Linked DNA regions of Homo sapiens: regions 1 and 2 are each linked to region 3. Evidence: fine-mapped expression QTL. A gene starts in region 3. Each other region holds a variant in brackets. All regions are shown on one strand. Distances are between the middles of the regions.

Region 1 (8,184 bases), 40 kb before region 3:
CTGAAATGGAAAGGGTTTCAGTGCAATCTCTTCCAGCTTCATAGATGAAGCCCTAGGACAGAAGTAAACTTTCCTATTTACAGCAGGTCCTTGAATAATGTTTTGTTCAACGTCATTTGGTTATAACATTGAGGAGAAAAAAATCTGACTCCTGGCCGGGCCACTGTCTGTTTGCATGTTCTCCCCATGTTGGCGTGGGTTTTCTCCAGGTACTCCCACATCACAAAACTGTGCATGTTTGGTTAGTTGGCATGCGTAAATGGTCCCAGTCTGAGTGTGAGCGTGTGTATGAGTAAGCCCTGCGATGGGATGGCTTCCTGTCCAGGATTGGTTCCCGCTTTGCACTCTACGCTGCCAGGATAGGCTCTGGCCACTCATGACCCGACCCTGCACTGCTTATTCATTTCCGTGATGTTTATCCAGACTTTGTTCAAACTCATCTCTCCAGATTCAATCTTCTCAAGTTTTTTTTGCTTGCTGAATAGTTCTTCATTAAGTTTGGGGATTTCCTGGAATGAGCTTTTCTGATTAGATTCCATTGTTCGAAATTTTTCCTTGAGGGCATCCAGATCCTCCTTGAGAGCAACCTGCATCCACACCAAGCCAACACAGGCCACAACACAGGCAGAGAGGGTGACAAAACCACAGAGCGGATAGCAGATCTTGCAGCATCGTCAATAGCCTCCCTTGGCAAAGCGAGAGCGATTTCCAACCACACCGAATTCCTCTTCCTCCTTGGAGCTGGACTCAGAGTCTAAGTCAGGAGGCTCAGGGCGAAGCAGGCGGTGACTGCTTGGGCTTCTTTCTCTGGCTGTCCCCAGCCAAACCAATCAATACATTGAGCTCTTTGGGCATTTTCATCTTCTTGTGTGGGGTGAGTGGAGCCCCGACTCCTGAGCTGCCAGGTGCGCACCCGACGCCCAATTCTCTTCCTGCGTTAGAGCTGCCTTCCAGGGTTGGGGATCCTGGGCCAGAGCCCCCTAGTCACTCCGCCAGGGACTGGAGATTGGAGCCCAGAGGAAGCTGGAACTCAGATGGGTGGGGGAAGTCACATAGAAATGGCCAAGGAGCTGATGACCCCAAGGATAAGGGCTGGTGGGCAGAGCGTTAGTAAAGAGGGTGGAAAGGGACCTTTATCTCCCAAAGGGCGAAAAAAGCCAAGTCAAAAATGAAGGATTCTCAGCCCTGATGAGTAGGCAATACTTCTAAGGGTGCTGCTCCAGGAGCTGGGGAAGGGCACACAAAATAGATGTTTTGGACCTCCGGGGCAGAATTTTCAATGGAGAGGGAAGAGAAACTTATTTATTTATTTATTTATTTATTTTTTCTTTGAGACGGAGTCTCGCTCTGTCGCCCAGGCTGGAGTGCAGTGGCACGATCTCCACTCACTGCAAGCTCCGCCTCCCTGGTTCACACCATTCTCCTGCCTCAGCCTCCTGAGTAGCTGGGACTACAGGCGCCTGCCACCACGCCCGGCTAATGTTTTTGTATTTTTAGTAGAGACGGGGTTTCACTGTGTTGGCCAGTATGGTCTCGATCTCCTGACCTCGTGATTCGCCTGCCTCGGCCTCCCAAAGTGCTGGGATTACAGGTGTGAGCCACCGCGCCCGGCCGAGAAACTTATTCTTGAGTGGGAAGAGTGGGGAGGTGCAGAGCAAGAACGTGGGAACGCGTCAGTCCCTTCCTAGCAGAAGAGGTGGCGGCAGGAGGGAGCTCCCAGCAGCTACAACCCCAACACTGCTTGGCCGCGGAGAAAATGCCCAGGCCAGGAAGCCGGCTGGGGTGTGTGATGATCACCGTTCTCTGGCCTCTGTCCTGAAAGTGAAAGGGGCCCGAGGCTGAGAAAGATCCGGAGCCCGGCTCTAAGGGCTCATCCTGAGAGAAGCCAGTCCCGCGCCTACGAGACCTCCGCCCCGCTGTCTGGGCCTGGGGGTCGCCGTGCGGCGGGCTACGGCTGCTCAGCCAACCGATAGCGCTTCCGCCTGGAGTTTGAGGTCTCAGGCAGGGGCAACTCTCAGTCACTCAAACGCGCAGGCCCTACTCTAGCCGCAACTCTGGCCCCTGCTCCGGCTCTGGCCGCGGCTGCTCCCTACACGTTGTTGTTATTGTGGGCGGTGGAGGCCGCGGGCTCCAGACCCAGGCCATCGCTCCGGCCCCATATTTTTAAAAATTTATTTATTGAGACAGTGTCTTACTCTATCATCCAGGCTGGAGTGCAGTGGTACAGTCACAGCTCACTACAGCCTCGACCTCCTGGGCTCAAGCAATCCTCCCACGTTTGCCTTCTAAGTAGCTGGGACTACAGGTGCGAGCCACCACGTCCAGCTTTTTTTATTTTTTGCAGAGACGGGGTCTCACTATGTTGCCCAGGCGCTTTTAGCTTGTTTTGAAACATCATGTTAATTTTCACCTGTTTGGTAGGGATTTACTTTGCTGTTTTCTATGCAATTTTGTATTATATTTCATAATCTTTTTCTGTTGCTTACTTTCACGTGAAATGCATTTTCCTGTACTTATTGGGAGAGACACGACAGAATAGCTTTTCTAGCCTCAAGGCTCATGAAGTTCTATTATTTTCAGAAAGTGACTAAAATAGCCTAATACTTTGAGATGTTTCCTCTGCTTCTCTCTCACTTCTGTCTATACCTTTTCTTTCTTTTACCTCTTATTGTCACTGTCCTGCTCAATTTGGAATCTACAACCTCAGAGGGGTTTTGTTTTGGAATGAAGCTCAAATTTGTTAGTTTCAAGAGTTCATGAGAACCTAGACCACTACATCTTCAGAACTTAGCACCATCCCCACAAACTCACGGGCAAATTGGAGTCTATAGAAACCTTCTGTGTTTTGACTGTTGCTAGAATTTTTTTTTTTTTTTTTGAGATGGGAGTCTCATTGGTTCTGTTGCCCAGGCTGGAGTGCAGTGGCAGGATCTCAGCTCACTCCAACCTTCACCTCCTGGGTTCAAGCGATTCTCCTGCCTCAGCCTCCCAAGTAACTTGGATTACAGGTGCCTGCCACCACCACGCCTGGCTCATTTTTGTATTATTAGTAGAGATGGGGTTTCACCAGTTGGCCTGGCTGGTTTCAAACTCCTGACCTCAGGTGATTCACTGTCTCTGCCTCCCAAACAGTTGGGATTACAGGCGTGAGGTACCACACCTGGTTCCAATTTTTTAAATTTTATTTTTGGCCTACCATGCTTTCCAGTGAAAACATGTTGACTTGAGGGCTCTCCTATTCTTAATGCCATCAGATGTCCCATTGCCTTTCCTCCACGGCTTTCCACACAGATGTCCCAAGCAGATCTTATAGCTGCTTTTGTCACTATCTGATCATATTTTGGGATTGTGGAGATACCTTGTCACAAAGATTAGCAGTAGATGCTGTGCATGGATTTCTGCTTTAACTCTCCTAGTTGCTGTTTTTATGAAGGGATTTGGGGAGATTAACAAAAATGACACAACTATTTCTGACTTTTTTTTTTTTCTGTGACAGAGTCTCACTCTGTTGCCTAGGCTGGAGTGCAGTAGCGCAATCTTGGCTCACTGCAACCTCTGCCTCTCACGTTCAAGCGATTCCCGTCTCAGCCTCCCAAGTAGCTGGGAATACAGGTGTGCACCACCATGCCTGGCTCATTTTTTTGTATTTTTAGTAGAGATGGGGTCTCACCATATTGGTCAGACTGGTCTTGAACTCGTGGCCTCAGGTGATCCACCTGCCTCGGCCTCCCAAAGTATTGGGATTACAGGTGTGAGCCACCATGCCCAGCCATCTATTTTTTAATGGACTTCTGATAATCTTTTATTTAGGAATATTTATAAGTGATAATGGTTGTCTAAGAGGTAGTAGAGCATGGTGATTGACAGCATGGGCTTTGGAGTCAGACTACCTGGGTACAAATCCAGTTTCACCCCTATTAGTTGTGTAATCCATAATGTGTTTTTTTAGTTTCTTCTGTAAAATAATAGGTTGTTATGAGAACTAAATGAAATAATATATGTAAAACACTGAGGGAAGTACTAGGTTACTTAATAGGCTAATAGGCATTCAACCAAGATAGCTGTTATACTTAATGTAAGTTT[ATTT/T]TTTACATTATTGGCTGTATAATAGACTACAAGAATAGAAAACAAACACTTGAAAATGAAAACAAGAACACCAACCTCGATTTTTTTTTTGAGATGGAGTCTTGCTCTGTGGCCCAGGCTGGAGTGCTGTGGTGCGATCCCGGCTCACTGCAAGCTCCGCCTCCCGGGTTCACGCCATTCTCCTGCCTCAGCCTCCCCAGTAGCTGGGACTACAGGCACCCACCACTGCGCCTGGCTAATTTTTTTTAGTAGAGACGGGGTTTCACCATGGTCTCGATCTCCTGACCTCGTGATCCGCCCACCTCGGCCTCCCAAAGTGCTGGGATTACAGGCGTGAGCCACCATGCCTGGCCCAACTTCTTGATTTTATGACAAGATAGAAACTACAACTAAAAACAGCTAGAAAATGATGAAAATGAAAAAACACATGGTTGACCAAGCTGACTTTAGAGGAAAGTTCATAGCCTTAAGCACTTCCATTAAAAGAATGAAAATATATGCAACACACATTCAATACTAGAGTTAACTTCTATTTTCTTTTTTTTTTTTTTTTTTGAGACGGAGTTTCACTCTTGTCGCCCAGGCTGGAGTGCAATGGCACGATCTTGGCTCACTGCAACCTCTGCCTCCTGGGTTCAAGTGATTCTCCTGCCTTAGCCTCCTGAGTAGCTGGAATTACAGGCACCCACCACCACACCTGGCTCATTTTTTTTGTATTTTTAGTAGAGATGGGGTTTCACCATGTTGGCCAGGCTGGTCTTGAATTCTTGACCTTGTGATCCGCCTGCCTTAGCCTCCCAAAGTGTTGGGATTATAGGCGTGAGCTACCGTCCCCAGCCTATTTTCTCTCTTTTTTGAAACGGAGTTTCTCTCTTGTTGCCCAGACTAGAGTGCAATTGCACGATCTCAGCTCACTGCAACCACAGCCTTTGGGGTTCAAGCTATTCTCCCGTCTCAGCCTCCCGAGTAGCTGGTATTACAGGCATGTGCCACCACGCCCGGCTAATTTTATAGTTTTAGTAGAGACGGGGTTTCTCCATGTTAGTCAGGCTGGTCTTGAACTCCCGACCTCAAGTGATCTGCCCGCCTCGGCCTCCCAAAGTACTGTGATTACAAGTGTGAGCCACTGCGCCAGGCCTGTTTTCTCTTTTTTAAGGTGGAAATCAATAAATTAGGGCCGGGCATGGTGGCTTATGCCTGTAATCCCAGCACTTTGGGAGGCCAAGGTGGGTGGATCACCTGAGGTCAGGAGTTCGAGACCAGCCTGGCCAACATGGTGAAACCCCATCTCTACTAAAAATACAAAAAAATGAGCCAGGCGTGGTGGTGGGCACCTGTAATCCCATATACTTGGGAAGCTGAGGCAGGAGAATCACTTGAACCCGCGAGGTGGAGGTTGCAGTGAGCCAATATCACGCCACCGTACACTCCAGCCTGGGCAACAGAGCGAGACTCCGTCTTAAAAAATGAAAGAAAGAAAGTAAAACAGGTATATAGAAGATACTGAGAATATTTTCTACAACTCTAGGCAAATGCATTTGAAAGAAAGCCTCAATGAAATAGATGTTCTCCTAGAAAAAGTACAAGTTATCAAAATTGATGAGAGGGTAAGGGAGAAACAGCTGGAGAAAAGTGCCAGAGAAATAGTCTTTAAAAAAAAAAAAAAGGCCGGGCGCGGTGGCTCACGCCTGTAATCCCAGCACTTTGGGAGGCCGAGGCGGGCGGATCACGAGGTCAGGAGATCGAGACCACGGTGAAACCCCGTCTCTACTAAAAATACAAAAAATTAGCCGGGCACAGTGGCGGGCGCCTGTAGTCCCAGCTACTCGGGAGGCTGAGGCAGGAGAATGGCGTGAACCCGGAAGGCGGAGCTTGCAGTGAGCGGAGATCGCGCCACAGCACTCCCGCCTGGGCGACAGAGCGAGACTCCGTCTCAAAAAAAAAAAAAAAAAAAAAAAAAATTCCAGGCCTAGATATATATACCACTTAATTCTTTCAAATCTTTGAATATCACATTTTCTTTGTTATTTAAACTTTTCTGGCTGGGCGTGGTGGCTTATGCCATAATCCCAGCACTTTGGGAGGCCCAGGTGGGCGTATTACCTGACGTCAGGAGTTCAAGACCAGCCTGGCTAACATGGTGAAACCCCATCTCTACTAAAAATACAAAAATTAGCCAGGCGTGGTGGCGTGCGCCTGTCATCCCAGCTACTTGGGAGGCTGAGGCAGGACAATCACTTGAACCTGGGAGGCGGAGGTTGCAGTGAGCCGAGATCATACCATTGCACTCCAGTCTGGGCAACAAGAGCAAAACTCCATCTCAAAACAAAAACAAAACTTTTTTGAAGTATAAAGAAATAGTCTTTTCTTTGCAGGTTACTTAAATATAGTTATATTTTCATAACATGGCTTAATAATTTATTGTGCCATCCAGCTGAGATGTATAAATCAAAACCACAGCAGTGATTTTAACGTTTAAACAGGACAGTCTACAAAAAAGGAAATACAAATGGCTCAAACAAATAAACAGATACCTAACTTCATTCTTGTTTGTTTTAAAGAGATAAGGTCTCACTCTGTTGCCTAGACTCTGGAGCATAGTGGTGCAATCATGGCTCACTGCAGCCTCAAATTTCTGGGCTTAAGCAATCCTCCTGCCTCAGCCTCCCAAGTAGCTGGGACTTCGGGTGTGCAGTACCACACTTCACTAATTTAAAAAAAAAAAAATTGTAGTGATGAGGTCTTACTATGTTGCCAACCTCATCTTGAACTCGTGGCCTCAAGCGATCTTCCTTCCTGTGTAGGCCCTCAAAGGGCTGAGATTATAGGTGTGAACCACCACGCCCAGTCCCCAACCTTATTCTTAAGTGAATATACAAAATTCTACTGAGATTAAAACGCCATTTTTAAAGTAAGAGATTAGGAAAGATCAAAACATTTGATAACACTTACAAAGATTTAATAGGCACTCTCATGCATTGTGGGTGGGACTGTAAACTGGCACAATCCTTATAGATGGCAACTTGCCAATATCTATCAAAAGTAAAAATGCACATATCTTAACCTAGTAATTCTAACTTTAGATTTCCAGCTTACAGTAAACTCACTCATGTGCAATGTGACCTATATAAAAGGTTATAAAATGAATCATTATTTATAATAGCAAAAGGTTAGGAAAAAAATGTCAGCAGGGACTGCTCAAATATATTATGGTACATTCATACAATAACATCTGCAATTATAGACCAAGAATCAAGAAACTCTTCATGTAACGACATGGGACAATCTCAAAAATATGTTACACAGAGAAGACAAGCTGAAGAACAGTATACACCGTACAATACCACTTAGGAAAAATACCTCTAGAGGGATATTTAAGGAAAAGATAACACTTTTTGGGAAGAGAAAATGAGTTCTAAAGGAGGGAAGGAGACTTCACTGTTTATCGTTCTGTGTCTTTTGAATTTTGAACAATTTTGAAATGAAAACATCCCAATGGAAATACAAGTCTTTTAGGTAAGTTCAAATGAGCATGTATTATATTTCTTTCATCTGACTGATAAACTTTTCCACAATTTCATTGAGTCTTTCAGGCTCCATTAGTTTATTTACCAACTCCTGCTCAACAGCCATTAGGGCTGGGCCAGTAAGCTTCTCTTGTCCCATGGTATTACATAAATATGTCTTAAGACGAGGCAGGGTAGAAAATGAGTTCTCAGTACTTGCTGAAGTAATTGGCCAAGACAAAGCAATATATAATAGCTTTGAGAGACAAGGAATATTACTGTGAAGACCATGCTGAATAAACAAACAGCCGAGACTGACGAAGTTTATGCAACTATCATCTATGACAAAGTTAAGCTTTGCATAATGTCGATAAAATCTAAGTTCTGGGATAATGTCCTCATCAAGTTTATAAAATTCCTGAACATGTTTTGCTGTTGTTTCATTTAATGGTTCATTCCATTTAAATAACAGTTCTGAAATTTGCTTTATTTTGCAATAATCAAACTCCGAAAAACATAACTTTAAATTTTGTAATATAGTATCTAATCCTTGGTAATAGATATTAATTTTATATTGTTCTTCTGTTGAAGT
Region 2 (8,184 bases), 260 kb before region 3:
GAGTTGGGAAATTGGGTGTACAGTTTCAGTTTCGCAAAATGAAAAGCATTCTACAGACTGATTGCACAACAATGTAAACAGTTAATGCTACTGAACTGTACACTTAAAAATGGTGAAGACGGTAAATTTCATTTTACGTATATTTTACTACAATTAAAGTTTTTAAAGATGTTTTTTAAGAAGTAATGTGGGAGGCTGGGTACAGTGGCTCACGGTTGTAATCCCAGCACTTTGGGAGGCCAAGGCAGGCGGACTGATTGAGCCCAGGAATTCAAGGCCAGCCTGGGCAGCATGGTGAAACCCCATCTCTACAAAACATACAAAAATTAGCCGGTGAAGTGGCATGCACCAGTAATCCTCAGGAAGCTGAGGCCGGAGAATTGCTTGAGCCCGGGAGACGGAGATGGCAGTGAGTCGAGATCGCACCACTGCCCTCTAGAGCCTGGGCAACAGGAGTAAAAACCTGTCTTTAAAAAAAAAAAAGTAATACGGGGAGTGGTGGAGGATACACATTACCAATATCAGGAATGAAATAAGGGACTACAGATTTCATAGAAATTAAAAATAAACTAAGAAAATATTATAAACAACTGGAGGTCCATACAGTTTAAAATATTATTAACTTGATGGCAATACATAAGAATGATTAACAACTTTACAAAAATAAATGACAGTTTAGCTTTGTGATATGCAATACAGTAGCCACGTGACACTTGACTATTTAAACTTAATTCTAATTAAATTACACTTGATCTTAGCCAAGAGGCCCAGAAGCAATAAATTTAGTCAAACTAAAACTTCAGTTCTGCACCCATCACATTTCAAGTGCTCAACAGTCACAGGTGCCAGTGGCTACCATACTTTAACTGTGTACAAGAACATTTCCATGATGATGCAGACTCTGACTGTGCAGATAGAGAAATGGCTCAAAAGGTGAAAATTACCAAAACTGACATGGAAGAAATAGAAAATCTGAATGGCCCCAGGCCCGGATGTCTCCACTAGTGAATTGAGTAAATAAAACACTTAGGAAATAATAACCCATCTTATATGAACTCTTTAAGCAAATATGAGAAAGGAATATTTCCTAATTTTATATGGCCAATATTGCCCTGGGACCAAAACCAGGAAAACACATTACATGAAAAATACATGCCAGTATCTTTCACAAACATAGCTGCTTAAAATATTAGCATAAATACTTAAAATATTGGCAAATTGAATATAGAAACATATAAAACAAATAATATATCATAAGTAAGATTTATCCCATAAATGCAAAGTGAGTTTAATATTTAAAAATTCATCTTCATATTAACACATTAAAGGAAAAAATAACATGATCATCTAAGTAGAGAAAAAGCAACTGACAAAATTTAATACTCATTCATGAAAATATCTTTCAGTAAACTAAAAAGAGAAAAGAAGGTCTTTGATCTGAGAGAGGGCATCTATAAAAAAAAAAATCAACATCTCATGACCTACTTAACAGTTTAAGACTGAATACTTTCCCCCTAAGTTGAAAAAAACAGTTAAAAATCTCTCCTCTCACCACTTCTACTCAATACTGTAATAAACATCCTAGCGGCTGGGCACAGGGGCTTACACCTGTAATCCCAGCACTTAGGGAGGTCGAGGCAGGTGGATCACTTGAGGCCAGGAGTTCAAGATCAGCCTGGCCAACATGGAGAAACCCCATCTCTACTAAAAATATAAAAATCAGTCAGGCATGGTGGCACACGCCTGTAATTCCAGCTACTCAGGAGGCTGAGGCACGAGAATCGCTTGAACCCAGGAGGTAGAGGTTGCAGTGAGCCCAGATAGCGCCACTGCACTCCAGCCTGGGCAACAGAGCAAGAATGTCTCAAAAAAAAAAAAGGAAAAAAGAAATATTCCATGCTTATGAAAAGACTATATATACTTAAGGTGTTAATTTTCCCCCAAATTAATCTAGAGATTTAATGTAACTCCAAAGTCTCTGTGGATTATTCTAGAAATTTACACATTGACTCTAAAATGTATGTGTAACTACAAGAGACATGAAAAGCCAAAACAATTTTTCTGTTTTTTTTTTTTGAGACAGAGTCTCGCTCTGTCGCCCAGGCTGGAGTGCAGTGGCGTGATCTCAGCTCACTGCAACCTCCGCCTCCCGGGTGCAAGCAATTGTCTGCCTCAGCCTCCCGAGTAGCTGGGATTACAGGTGCCCGTCACTGCGCAAAGCTAATTTTTGTATTTTTAGTAGAGATGGGGTTTCACCATGTTGGCCAGGCTGGTCTCGAACTCCTGACCTCAGGCAATCCGCCCGCCTTGGCCTCCCAAAGTGCTGGGATTACAGGTGTCAGCCACTGTGCCCAGCCAAACTTCTGATTTAATATAAAGCTAAATTAACCAAGACAGTGTGATATTGGCCTAAGGATAAACATACGGATTTGTGGAATAGAAAAGTCCAAAAATAGACTCAAAAACATTGGTCAAATGACTTCCCACAAAAGTGCCAAGGTAAATCAATCCAAAAAAAAAATCTTCAATAAATGTTACTGATACAACTGGACATCCATATACAAAAAGATTTATTTTACACTACATACAGAAACTTGAAATGGATCATCAACTTAAGCATAAAAGCTAAGCCTAAACTATAAGGTTTCTAGAAAAAAAGCAAGTACAAATTTTCATGATCTTATGATAGATTTCTTAGAACACAGCATAGACCATAAAAATATAATAATAAAATTGGGCTTCATCAATATTAAAAATTTGTGCTTTTCAAAGAACACCAACAATACAACAAAAGGCAATCCAAAGAACAGATGAATGCATAGATGGATGGATGGATGGATACGGAGAGAGAAATACAGATGTAGACTGATGGAGACAGACACAGAGATAGCCCCATCTGTTTCTATCAGTCTATCTATTGAGACTTGTATCCAAACTAGTATACATGAAGAATCCTGGGCCAGGCTCAGGATTCTCTTGCCTGTAGTCCCAGTAATTTGGGAGGCTGAGGCGGGCAGGTCGCTTGAGGCCTGGAGTTCGCTACCAGCCTGGGCAACATGGTGAAACCCCATCTCTACAAAAAAGTACAAAAAGAAAAAAAAAGTAGCTGGGCGTGGTGGCATGTGCCTATGGTCCCAGCTACTTAGGAGGCTGAGGTGGGAGGATCACCTGAGCCCAGAAAATTGAGGTTGCAGTGAGCCATGATCACACCACTGCACTCCATCCTGGGCAACTGACTGAGACCCTGTCTCAACAACAACAACAACAACAAAAAGGATCCTTACAACTTCATAAAAAGAAGACAAACAAATTTTAAGATGGACAAAAATTCAAACATACACTTCACAAAACAACATTTAGGAAAGGCCAATAAGTACTCTGAAAAATGCTCAACACCATTGGTTACCAGGGAAATGCATTGAGATGCTACTTTCCATCCCCCACAAAACGCTTACAGTTCAAAAGACAGGGACGACTTAAATGAAATGGAGGCCAAGAGCAGTGTAATCCCAGAACTTTGGGAGGCCAAGGCAGGAGGATTGCTTGAACCCAGGAGTTCGAGACCAGCCTAGGCAACAGAGAAAGACCTTCTCTCTACAAAAAATAAAAATAAAAAAAATTGCCAGGAATGGTGGCACATGCCTGTGGTCCCAGCTACGGGGGAGGGTGAGGTGGGAGGCTCACTTAAGCATGAGAGGTGGGGGCTGCAGTGAGCTGAGGTCGCGCCACTGCACTCCTGAAACAGAGCGAGACCCTGTCTAAAAATAACAACAAAAATGAAATGAACAAATGCCTTGAAAAATACAACCTACCAAAAACAGACACAAGATGAAATATAAAATTCTTTAAATGCTGTATCTATTAAAGAAAGTGAATTCAGAATTTTAAACCATCACACCAAGAAATATCTAGGTCCAGATGATTTCAGTGATTAATTGTATAAAAATTTAATGAAGCTATAACTCCAATCTTAACACAAACTCTGTCAGGAAAATATTAGCAAACTGAATCTAGCAATATATAAATATGAATATTATTCAGCCATTCCTCAAGGTAGAATGGGAACATATATTTTTTAATGTAATAAAGCCTAAGCCTATTTGACAGAAACCAACTACAATCAGCCCCCAATGACAAAATACTACAAATTAACTACTTTACTTAGAATCAAGAATTAGTCAAAAGTCACTACTACTTTAATATTTAATGAAGTCCTACAAATTTTAGCAAAACACTAAAATTATATAATGTGAAGAAGCTGGAAAAAAGAAATAAAATAGTTTTAGATGATATGGCTTTATAATGCATAACTACAGATTCAAATTTATTTTAAAAGCCTACTAGATTTAATAAGGGAATTAAGTAACACCCTGACTATTCTTGCAATAAGAATCTAGAAATGAAAAAAGTTTTTCAATATAAAAAATAAAAATTTTTACATTTGTCAAAGTACTAAAGAACAACTGATACAAGAAAAAGCACAATAAATATTACTTGAAAATAAAATGTTAGTGAATGGCATAAAATAAGATCTGTATGCTAAGATTTGGGCTTATTGTTCTTATTGTATGTAAGAACAAATACATAATAAAAATATTGATTCTGCCCAAAAGTAATATATGTACATGTATCATTTTCAATTAGAAGTCCAACAAAATATTTTTGGAAAGTATATAAAATCATGTTAAAATTTAGTGGCTTAATGGAAAGCAAAAATTACAAAAAATAAAACTGAGACAGTGGCTTGACCCAGCAGATAAATGTCTATACCACAAAGCCAATAAATACACAGTAATTTAAAAATACTCCTTCAAATAAATATACAAATAATAAAAATCAATATGGCATCAATATAAAAATAAATATATTAATAGAATGTAATAGAAATTCCAAAATAGATCCCAATATACATAGAACTTTAAATATATCTCAGTGGTGCTAATTCAGTTCAGTGATAAAAAGATTATGGTGGCACAATAGGCTACTCATCTAAGGAATAAAAGTGGACCCCAACCTTGCCCTACATCCAATTAAATAAAACTTAAATGCTAAAATATAAAATAAAGAGCTTGCATG[A/GA]TAATCCTTTATAGCAGGGGTACCCAAACTCCAGGCCACAGACCAGTACCAGTCCATGGCCTGTTAGAAACTGGGCCTCACAGCAGGAGGTCAGCATCCCACAAGCAAGCAAAGCTTCATCTGTATTTACAGCCACTCCCCATTGCTTGAATTACCGCCTGAGCTGTGCCTCCTGTCAGATCAGCAGCAGCATTAAATTCTCATAGGAGAGCAGCATTAAATTCTCATAGGAGCGCAAACCCTATTGTGAACTATGCATGTGAGGGATCTAGGTTGCCTGCCCATTATGAGAATCTAATGTCTGATGATCTGTCACTTATCTCCCATCACTCCCAGATAGGACCATCTAGTTGCAGGAAAACAAGACCAGGGTTCCCACTGATTCTACATTATAATGTGCTGTATAATTATTTTCATTATATATCACAATCTAATAATAACAGAAATAAAGTGCACAATAAATGTAATGTGCTTGAATCATCCCAAAACCATCCTGCCTCTCCCTCTGACGCCTGGGTCCATGGAAAAGCTATCTTCCACAAAACTGGTCCCTGGTGCCAAAACAGGTTGGGGACTGCTACTTTACAGAGTAAATTATAAAATTGTATTCAAAGACATTGAAGATTTAAATAAATACAAAGACATACCAAGTTCATGGATAGAAAGACACAATGCCACTTCTCTCTCAGTTGATCTACACATTCATGATAATTAAATAAAATTCCCAAAAAATTTTTGTTATTTGATTTTGTTCTGTCAGAAACTTCCCAAGATATTTCTAATGTAAACAGGGGCAAGAATAGGCAAAACATTCCTGAAGAAAAATTTTCAGGGATGTGTCCCATCAGATTATTAAGAATTATTACACAGCTCATTCATTAGAACACCTTGGTACTGTCACAGGAATAAACAAACAAACAGTCCAAGAAAACATTAACTGAGAATGTGGGGAAATGCCTACAGATGTAGTTATAGAGAAACTTTGCAGCTTACTGGAGAAAGGAGGTAGTATTTGATAGATGCTGGTGAGTAAGGTAATTTATTAGCCTTATAATAGTAAATAAAATTAGTTCCCTACTCCACACCATATAAAAAATTAGTGTAGGGTAATTCAAAAGCTACACGTGAAAGGCAAAATCAATAAAGATTTTAGGAAATAATATACAGTCATCCCTCCATATCCATGGGGCACTAGTTCCAAGACACCCCTCCCAACCATGCTCAAAACCCACAGATGCTCAAGTCTCTTATATAAAATGGAATAGTATTTGCACATAATCTATACACATCTTCCCATATACTTTAATTCATCTCTAGGTTACTTATAGAACTTAATATTATGGGCTCATGCCTGTAATCCCAGCACTTTGGGAGGCCAAGGCAGGCGGATCACCTGAGGTCAGGAGTTTGAGACCATCCTGGCCAGTGTGGTGAAACCCCATCTCTACTAAAAATACAAAAATCAACTGGGTGTGGTGGCAGGTGCCTATAATCCCAGCTACTCAGGAGGCTGAGGCAGGAGAACTGCTTGAACCCAGGAGGCGGAGGAAGCAGTGAGCAAAGATCGCGCCACTGCACTCCAGCTTGGGTGACAAGAGTGAAACGCCATCTTAAAAAAAAAAAGAATATAATGTTAATGCTATGTAAATAGTTGTTATATTGTATTGTTTAGGGAATAATGACAAGAAAAAGAAGTCTTTATATGTTCAGAACAAATGCAATCATCAATATTTTTTTCCAAATATTTTTGATCCACGATTGGTTGAATCTGCAGATGCAGAACCCATGGATACAGAGGGCAAACTGTAATTGCTCTTCCTGATCTCAGCCCAGGAAATTTTTCCTAAATAAAATGGGGGTTAAAATATAAACCATAAAGGAAAAGACTGATAAATTTATTATCGTTCAACTACATTAAAATCAATTAACTTCTGCATATGCAAAGATTTTATGAAGACATAAGAGATGAATGAGAAGTTTATTCGCACCATCTATAACTGGTAAGTTTATTGTTCAGAACATTTAGAGAATGCCTACAATTCAATAAGAAAAAAACTAATAGCAAGTGGGTAATAGATTTAACGTAACAGGCATTTCACAAAAAAAATTAAAAATACCCAATAAATGTGAAAAATGTTCAACTACTCATTAACAAGGAAATGCAAATTAAAGACAAAATGAAGTTCATGTTATATCCTCCATACTGACAAAGATTAAAAGTCTAATAAATCAAGTGTTGGCCAGATGTGAGGTGACCACAACTTTAATTAACCAGTAACAGAAATGTAAATGGATAAAACTAGTCTTTCCTTGGTATTACTGGGGCTTTGGTTCCAGGACATTCCCCTACCCCACAGATACCAAAACCCGAGCATATTCAAGGCCTACAGTTGGCATGAGACTGCTGATATGAAAAAAAAGTCAGCCCTCTGTATAAGCAGGTTTCACATCCCTCACATACTGCATTTTCTATCCACGCTTGGTTGCAGGATCCACTGATACAGAGGGCCAACTGTATTTACTAAATAAAATCCAAAATCCATGCATAAGTGGACCCGTACAGTTCAAGCCCATGTTGTTCAAGGATCAACTGCACAAAAGAAACTAAGTTTTGCGTTTCTAGCAAAGTTGAGAATGTACACCTGCCTAGGCCTGAGCAATCACCTCCTCAAATATACCCTACAGCAGGGGTAGGTAAACTATGCCTGCATGTCAAATCCAAGAGACCTCCCTTCTGTTTCTGTATAGCCCAAGAGCTAAGAATGATTTTCACATGTTTTAATAGTTTAAAAAACAATCAAAAGAACATTCCCTGACACATGAAAAATTACATTAAATTCAAATTTCAGAGTCCCTAAAGTTTTGTCAGAAACACAATAATCCATTTATGTACTATCTATATTGTTTTTATTTTATTTTATTTTTGAGATGGAGTCTCGCTCTGTCACCCAGGCTGGAGTGCAGTTGTGCAATCCTGGCTCACTGCAACCTCCACCTCCTGAGTTCAAAGGATATTCCTGCCTCAGCCTCCCAAGTAGCTGGAATTGCAGGTGCCTGCCACCACGCCCAGCTGATTTCTGTATTTTTAGTAGAGATGGGGTTTCGCCA
Region 3 (8,184 bases):
CACAATCTCAGGTCACTGCAACCTCCACCTCCCGGGTTCAAGTGATTCTCCTGCCTCAGCCTCCTGAGTAGCTAGGATTACAGGCATGCACTACCACTCCTGGCTAATTTTTTGTATTATTAGTAGAGACGGGGTTTCACCATGTTGGCCAGGCTGGTCTGGAACTCCTGACCCCAGGTGATCCACCCGCCTCAGCCTTCCAAAGTGCTGGGATTACAGGGGTGAGCCACCACGCCCGGCCACTAAAGGAAATTCTTTAAGCTAAAGTAAAATAGTAGATGGGAATTTAGCATAAAAGTTGGAAAGCAGGCCAGGCGTGGTGGCTCACGCCTGTAATCCCAACACTTTAGGAGGCTGAGGCAGGCGGATCACTTGAGGTCAGGAGTTCGTGACCAGCCTGGCCAACATGGTGAAACCCCATCTCTACCAAAAATACAAAAATTAGCTGGGTATGGTGGTGCACGCCTGTAATCCCAGCTACTCGGGAAGCTGAGGCAGGAGAACTGCATGAACCCAGGAGGTGGAGGTTGCAGTGAGCCCAGATCATGCCACTGCACTCCAGCCTGGGTGACAGCGCATGACTCCATTTAAAAAAAAAAAAAAGTTGGAAAGGAAGAAAACTTTTTATTTGTAGACATGACTGCATATAGAAAACTCTAAGGAACCTCCCCCAACTCACCCCCCGCAAAAGAAACTATTAGAATAAGTGAATTCAGCAGAATTATAGGATAATACAAGATCCGCATTTTAGAATTTTTCTTATCACTTATCTTCAACATTGTAGTAGAAGTTCTAGTTAGATCAATAAAGCAAGAAAAAATAAAAGACAAACTTTGAAAAGGCAGTTAAAATTGTTATTATTCATGGATGACATGATTCTATACAAAGAAAATTCAAAAGAATCTCCAAGTTATTAAGCTTAGCAAGACATTCGAAAATAAATTTTGGCCAGGTGCAGTGGCTCACGCCTGTCATCCTAGCAATTTGGGAGGCAGAGATGGGTGAATTACCTGAGGTCAGGAGTTCAAGACCAGCCTAACATGGTGAAACCCGTATCTACTAAAAATACAAAAGAATTAGCTGGGCATGGTGGTGGGCACCTGTAATCCCAGCTACTCAGGAGGCTGAAACAGGAGAATCACTTGAACCTGGGTGTCAGAGGCTACAGTGAGCCGAGATTGTGCCACTGCATTCCAGCCTGGGTGACACAGTGCGACTCCGTCTCAAACAAACAAACAAAAAATCAATTTTATTTCTTTATACTAGAACAGAAAAATATAAAAATAACCATTTTCTGCAGCATCATAAATATCAAATATAGGAATAAATCTAATGAAAGCTATTAAAGAACTCTACAGTGAAAACAAAACATTGCTGAGAGAAATTAAGGAAGATCTAAATAAATGCTCATTGATGGAAAGAGTCAATATTAATTTTTCTCCTAATTAAGCTGTAGATGAAAATCCCAGCAGGGGTTTTTGTGGAATTTGTAAGGTAATTCTAATGTATATACAATGTGCATACAGAGCCTAGCATAACCAAGACAATATCAAAAAAAAAAAATGTTGGAAGGGCTTATAAAGCTACAGTAAATTAAGATAGTGTGGTATGGACACAAGCAAAAACAAAACAGAGTCTGGAAGCAGATATACTCCTATCCCTTATTTCTTCGCATTATACCACTTCTTTATACATTACACTTTGCTAAGATTTATTTTATTCGGCCGGGCACGGTGGCTCCTGTCTGCAATCCCAGCACTTTGAGAGGGTGGATCAGCTGAGGTCGGAGTTCTAGACCAGCCTGGCCAACATGGTGAAACCCTGTCTCTACTAAACAAAAATTAGCCAGGTGTGGTGTAATCCCAGCTACTTGGGAGGCTGAGGCAGGAGAATCACTTGAACTGGAGGTGGAGGTTGCAGTGAGCTGAGATCGCGCTACTGCACTCCAGTCTGGGAGACAAGAGTGAAATGCTGTCTCAAAAAAAAAAAATTATTTTATTCAACTGAGTTCTGCAAGGTCTTTTACTAGCCTGATGGGAAGGCTGGAGGCAGAAGGCTATATGTTTTTCAAACCAAACTAAAATGTCCATGGTTAATTCTGCAGGCAATGAAGAGCCATCATTTCCGAAGTGCCTTGGTACCGGGTTACACTGATGAGTAGGATGTCCCAACCAGTAAGTATATACAAGGTACTGAGAAGAAATGAAAAAAGAAGACGGTCAGTCTTCTGGGAGGTGAAATTTGAGCTGGGTTTTAAAGTGTCTACCAACCAATGATGGCGGATATTCCTGGTATAGAGACAGCATGTACAAAACCACAAATAGCCGGGCACAGTGGCTCAAGCCTGTAATCCCAGCACTTTGAGAGGCCCAAGCAGGTGGATTGCTTCGATTCAGGAGTTCGAGACCAGCCTAGGCAACATGAAGATAACCTGTCTCTACAAAAAATACAAAAATTAGCTGGGCGTAGTGGGGAGCACCTGTTGTTCCAGCTACTCTGGAACCTGAGGTGGGAGGATCGCTTAAGCTCGGAAGGCTGAGGCTGCTTGTGAGCCGTGATCGTGTCACTGCACTCAGCCTGGGCCAAAGAGCGAGACCCAGTCTCCAAAAAAAAAAAAAAAAAAAGAAGCACAAATATATGGGAACTAGAAGGAGTGGGACTGTTGTTGCAGATAAAGTACAAGTGCAAGAGTGCTAGTAGAAGGAACTGGAAAGTTTGAAAAGTAGACATGGGTCATGTCAGGAAGGTCCCTGATACCAAATACCTTAAAATTAATCTTGTAAATCAGCAGCGTTCAAACTGTGCTTTTGGGGTTCAGCAAACATTTCATTTTTTTTTTTGAGACGGGGTCTCGCTCTGGAGTGCAGTGGCACGATCTCGACTAAATGCAACCTCTGCCTCCCGGTTCAAGCGATTCTCCTGCCTCAGCCTCCTGAGTAGCTGAGATTACAGGCGCCTGCCACCAAGCCCAGCTAATTTTTGTACTTTTAGTAGAGACGGGGTTTTGCCATGTTGGCCAGGCTGGTCTCGAACTTCTGACCTCAAGAGATCCGCCCGCCTGGGCCTCCCAAAGTGTCGGGATTACAGGCTTGAGGCACCACGCCCGGCCAGGAGTCAAACTTTTGAAAAATCACTGCTCAATGAAGGAGAGATACAGGTGTGATGGGGCTTCTGAAACGGAGGCTGCGGAGCGAGACTAAAGTCTGAAGGCCCAGTTACTACACAGGAGCAGGAGGCGGCGAGAATCGCTGGAAGCGGGGAGCACTAACCCCCCCAGTCTATGAGGGCAAGGTTAAAGGAGGCGGCAAACACAATCCACGTCAGGGCCTGGCCCGGAGTTCCCGACCCCCATCTGGCGGAATCCGCACTCAAAGCTCCGTCTCTAAAACCCCGACCCGGCGCGTCATCCTCCCTCCGACCGACAGCAGAAACCCTGCCCCTTTCGAGTAAGGCGCAGGAGTAAAGACCGAAACCAGAGCCGCATGAGGAGGCTTACTAATTTCTCTCAGGGACGCCCCGCCCAACGCTTCTGAAACAATCTTCGAAGCGAAACGGCCCCGCCGACCCCGCCCCTCTCCCGTCGTGCTCTGCGGTTGAGCATGCGCAGGGCCGCTGGCTCAGGGTGGTCCCAGCTCCCTGAATTGGGAAGAGCGACTTTGGGATAGAAGAAGTGGGAGAGGGGGAGGGGAAGAGTCCTTACGGCCCGCATAGGATCTTACCCTTGAAGTCGTCGCTGGCTGGCAGCCAAAGTAGGACCCTTGACTCAGAGCTCAGGCAGGGCAGTTAGATTTCCTGGATTTGAGAGATGGCTTTACTACTTATTAGCTGTGTGCTAGTAAGCGATTTGACAACTTCTATAAATCTCCATTTCTTCGACCTTGAAATGGGGATAATTGTAGTGGCTGCATCGTAGGTTTGTAAACATTAGGCAGGCTTCTGCAGAAGCTGGACTCAAAAAAAAAAAATATGACAGGCAATGTTAGCAAAGTGCCAGTTGCAGAGTAAATTCCTAGTAAAAGGAAATTATCCTCAGAGGTAGGGAGGGAGTTCAGACTTCTTTCATTAGTACGTTAAAATTAAAATGACCCCAGGCTGGGTGTGGTGGGTCACACCTATAATTCCAGCACTTTGGGAGGCCGAGGCGGGTGGACTGCTTGAGTTCAGGAATTCAAGACCATCCTGACCAACATGGTGAAACCCCGTCTCTATTAAAAATACAGAAATTAGCCGGGCATGGAGGCGGGCGCCTGTAATCCCAGCTACTTGGGAGTCTGAGGCAGGAGAATCGCTTGAAGCCAGGAGGCAGAGGTTGCAGTGAGCTGAGATTGTACCACTGCACTTCAGCCTGAGCGACAGAGAGAGACTGCGTCTCAAAAAAAAAAAAAAAAAAAAAAAAAAAAATTAAAATAACCCCAAACTGCATGTCAAAAATAATGGCATATTTTAAATGTTTTTTGACAATACTTTCAACACCTAAAAAAGTATAGGACGAACTAACTGTGCTATTCCTAAAGGCATAAGAGGATTCTAAAATATATATATAAGGTTGAATGATGAACTTATTATAATCATATTTGACAATTACTTTTAAAGGAGATATTCTCAAAAATCTAAATTTGAGGCCCTTGTGAAGGTGAGGTCCAGACCAAAAGGGCCTCCTAATCCTTGCTGCTATGGTCCTTAAATATCCTTTGGAATTAGCCTCAAATCTAATATAAACCCTTTGGTAATTTGAAATATTATACGAGTAACTGAAGTTAATTTCTCCAACATTTATTATTACCTTCTAATATTCATAATAATCTGTTTAGACTGTTAGGATTAGAAAGGACCTTACTGAAATGATCTCTCCTCTAATGCTCCCTTCCTACCAAAGGAAAAGCTGAAGGCAAGAGGATAAAGGTAATTTGCCCCAAGTTACACAGCAACTCAGTGACTGGGATTAGATTGGAACCCAGAAATGAGTCCTGGTTCAGTGGGCATCCAAAGGCAAGTGATGTCATTGTAAATGCCCCGTGGGTTCACCTTGCCCGCTACCTAAACACAGTCCATTTATCAAGACGGGGAATTGCAATAGAGAAAGAGTAATTCACGCAGAGCCAGCTGTGCGGGAGACTGAAATTTTATTATTATTTAAATCAGTCTCCTCGAGCATTTGGGAATCAGAGTTTTTAAGGACAACTGGTGGGTGGGGGGAAGCCAGTGAGCCAGAAGCGCTGATTGGTTAGGTAGGAGATGAAATAATGGGAAGTTGAAGCTGTCTGTCCTCATGCGCTGAGTTAGTTCCCTGGTGGGGGCCACAAGATCAGATGAGCCTGTTTATCTATCTGGGTGGTACCAGCTGATCCATCAAGTGCAGGGTCTGCAAAATATCTCAAGCACTGGTCTCAGGAGCAGTTTAGGGAGGGTCAGAATCTTGGCCTCCAGCTGCATGACTCCTAAACCATAATTTCTAATCTTGTGGCTAATTTGTTAATCTTATAAAGGCAGTCTAGTCCCCAGGCAAGGAGGAGGTTTGTTTTGGGAAAGGGCTGTTATTGTCTTTGTTTTAAACTATAAACTAAATTCCTCCCAAAGTTAGTTTAGCCTATGCCCAGGAAGGAACAAGGACAGTTTAAAGTTAGAACCAAGATGGAGTCCATTAGGTTAGATCTCCTTCATGGTCTCAGTCATAATCTTGCAATGGTGGTTTCATCGTCATTACTAACTTCCTTGGGAGTTGAGTTGAAAAAATGGTAGGATTCATGATATCATAAAAAATTGTAAGGATGTGTGATAATTTTGAGATGTGATATTCCAACCACCCCCAGTGATAGATCTGAAAATTTGGCCCAATATTTCAAGCAGTAGATGTAGGTCACAAGTTTCATGCGTCTTTCTTGCCCTGAAGTCTCAATAGTTTATACTGGCTGAAAGATTAAGTCCTAAGGAATAGGAGGAGAGCTCTGGGAGATAGGAAGCTTGATTCATTCTTTTTCTTTTCTTTTCTTTTTTTTTTTTTTTGAGACAGAGTTTTGCTCTTGTCACCCTGGCTGGAGTGCAATGGCGTGATCTTGGTGGCTCACTGCAACCTCTGCCTCCTGGGTTCAAGCGATTCTCCTGCTGCAGCCTCTCAAGTAGCTGGGACTACCGGAGTGCCCCATCATGCCCAGCTAATTTTGTATTTTTAGTAGAGATGGGGTTTCGCCATGTTGGCCAGTCCAGTCTTGAACTCCTGACCTCAAGTGATCTGCCCACCTCAGCCTCCCTGGGTGCTGTGATTACAGGCGTGAGTCAACGTGCCTGGCTGATTCATTTGTTTTCCTTTCTTTTTTTTTTGAGATGGAGCTTCGCTCTTGTTGCCAGGCTGGAGTGCAATGGCGCAATCTTGGCTCACCGCAACCTTCACCTCCTTGGTTCAAGTGATTATCCTGCCTCAGCCTCCTGAGTAGTTGGGATTACAGGCATGCGCCACCATGCCCAGCTAATTTTGTATTTTTAGTAGAGATGGGGTTTCTCCATGTTGGTCAGGCTGGCCTTGAACTCCTGACCTCAAGTGATCCGCTCACCTCAGCCTCCCAAAGTGCTGGGATTACAGGTGTGAGCCACCACATCCGGCCAGAAATTGAACCTTTTTTTACTGGGGGCATATGGGTAAAATCAATTTGCCAGTCCTGTCCTGGAAGGTGTCCCCTGGCTTGACAGGTTGGGAAAGAAGGGGGTCTAGTGTTGCAGTGGGGTGAAGTTTTCTGGCAAATAGAGCGTTGATGGGGAATGGCTTTTAACTGTTCCTTTATATCTGGGGTTATGTGTATATGGGAACTTAAGAAATGTAGAGGGCAATGGCTAGTGTGGAAGAGGTTGTGAATGTCCTGTGAAAGAGTTGCTTTTTCAGGGTCAGGTAGGACTAATTTGTTTTGTATGAACCAGTATGGGGGTTTGAATTGTGCCCTTGCCATGATTAGTTGTTGTATTTGGTGTTCTGGATAAAAGGAGGGGATATGTTGTATGAGGGGAAATAGGTATTGGGGAATTGGGTGATTGGTTGAGCACAATAGTCAGCCTCACAGTTCCCTAAAGAAATGTAGCTTTTATCTGATTGATGTCTTTGCAATGAATAACTGCAACCTTTCCTGGAAGTAAAGCTGCCTTTAGTAGATGATGGATTGGTTTTCCATTAATGATAGTTGTTCCCTTAACCATGAGATAGCCCCACTTGCTCCACATTTGGGCATTGGAATGGTTGATGTTATAGGCATATTTGGAATTGGTGTATATATTAACTTGTGTGGTTTTTGCTAGGGTTAATGCTCTTATTAGGGCAATTAATTTCTGCTTTTTGGTAGGATGTGCCCAAAGGCAAGGGGGCAGCCTCTACAACTCTTCTAGGTGGGAGAGAGTGGGTATCATCATGATATCCCTCAGTAATGGCATATCCTCTTGGAGGGGAGGGTTTTTTGATGGCTGCCATCTATAAACCAATCCGGGGCTTCCTTTATGTGAGTGGAAGTAAGGCAGGAGAATCACTTGAACCCAGGAGGCAGAGGTTGCAATGAGCTGAGATTGTGCCATTGCACTCCATCCTGGGCAATAAGAGTGAAACTCTGACTCAAAAAAAACAAAAAACAACAAAAAAGCAAGACCCAACATATTGCTGCCTACAAGAGACTCACCTCACCATTAAAGACAAACACAAGCAAAGTGAAAGGATGGAAAAAGATTTTCTATGCAAACAGAAACCAAAAGTAAGCAGGAGTAGCCACACTTATATCAGATAAAATAGAACTTAAGTCAAAAACTGTAAAAAGAGACAAGGTCATTATGTATGACAAGGGGGTCAATTTAACAAGAGGATATAACAATTATAAATATATATGTGCTACCATCCTGGCTAACACAGTGAAACCCCATCTCTACTAAAAATACAAAAAATTAGCTGGGCGCAGTGACGGGCGCCTGTAGTCCCAGCTACTCAGGAGGCTGAGGCAGGAGAATGGCGTAAACCCAGGAGGCAGAGCTTGCAGTGAGCCGAGATCGCGCCACTGCACTCCAGCCTGGGCGATGGAGGGAGACACTGTCTCAAAAAAATTAAAAAAAAAAAAAATATATATGTGTCCAACACCAGAGCACCCCAATATATAAAACTAATATTACTAGAGCTAAAGAGATAGACTGCATACAATAACAGTACGGGACTTCAACACC

What was found. PIP is the estimated chance that this variant, and not a neighbour inherited with it, causes the effect.
Region 1: its variant is fine-mapped to the expression of ZMYM1 in whole blood (INTERVAL, PIP 0.99).
Region 2: its variant is fine-mapped to the expression of ZMYM1 in whole blood (TOPMed, PIP 0.93).

The regions. Positions count from the first base shown.
Region 1 is chr1:35,114,699-35,122,882 of GRCh38, reverse strand. ZMYM1 (zinc finger MYM-type containing 1) reads right to left here. Exons shown (of 10, transcript NM_024772.5): 10 at 7,024-8,184. The coding sequence ends at 7,624. It also overlaps the pseudogene EFCAB14P1. Among named protein-coding and RNA genes, the nearest start is that of ZMYM1, 39 kb to the right of the region's middle. RefSeq lists an enhancer at 1,790-1,909. The variant ATTT/T (reference allele first, on the strand shown) is at 4,084.
Region 2 is chr1:35,337,756-35,345,939 of GRCh38, reverse strand. All of the region lies in intron 2 of ZMYM4 (zinc finger MYM-type containing 4), which reads right to left. Among named protein-coding and RNA genes, the nearest start is that of ZMYM4-AS1, 24 kb to the left of the region's middle. The variant A/GA (reference allele first, on the strand shown) is at 5,077.
Region 3 is chr1:35,074,755-35,082,938 of GRCh38, reverse strand. It overlaps ZMYM1 (zinc finger MYM-type containing 1), which reads right to left and starts at 3,554. Exons shown (of 10, transcript NM_024772.5): 1 at 3,497-3,554. RefSeq lists an enhancer at 3,129-3,647.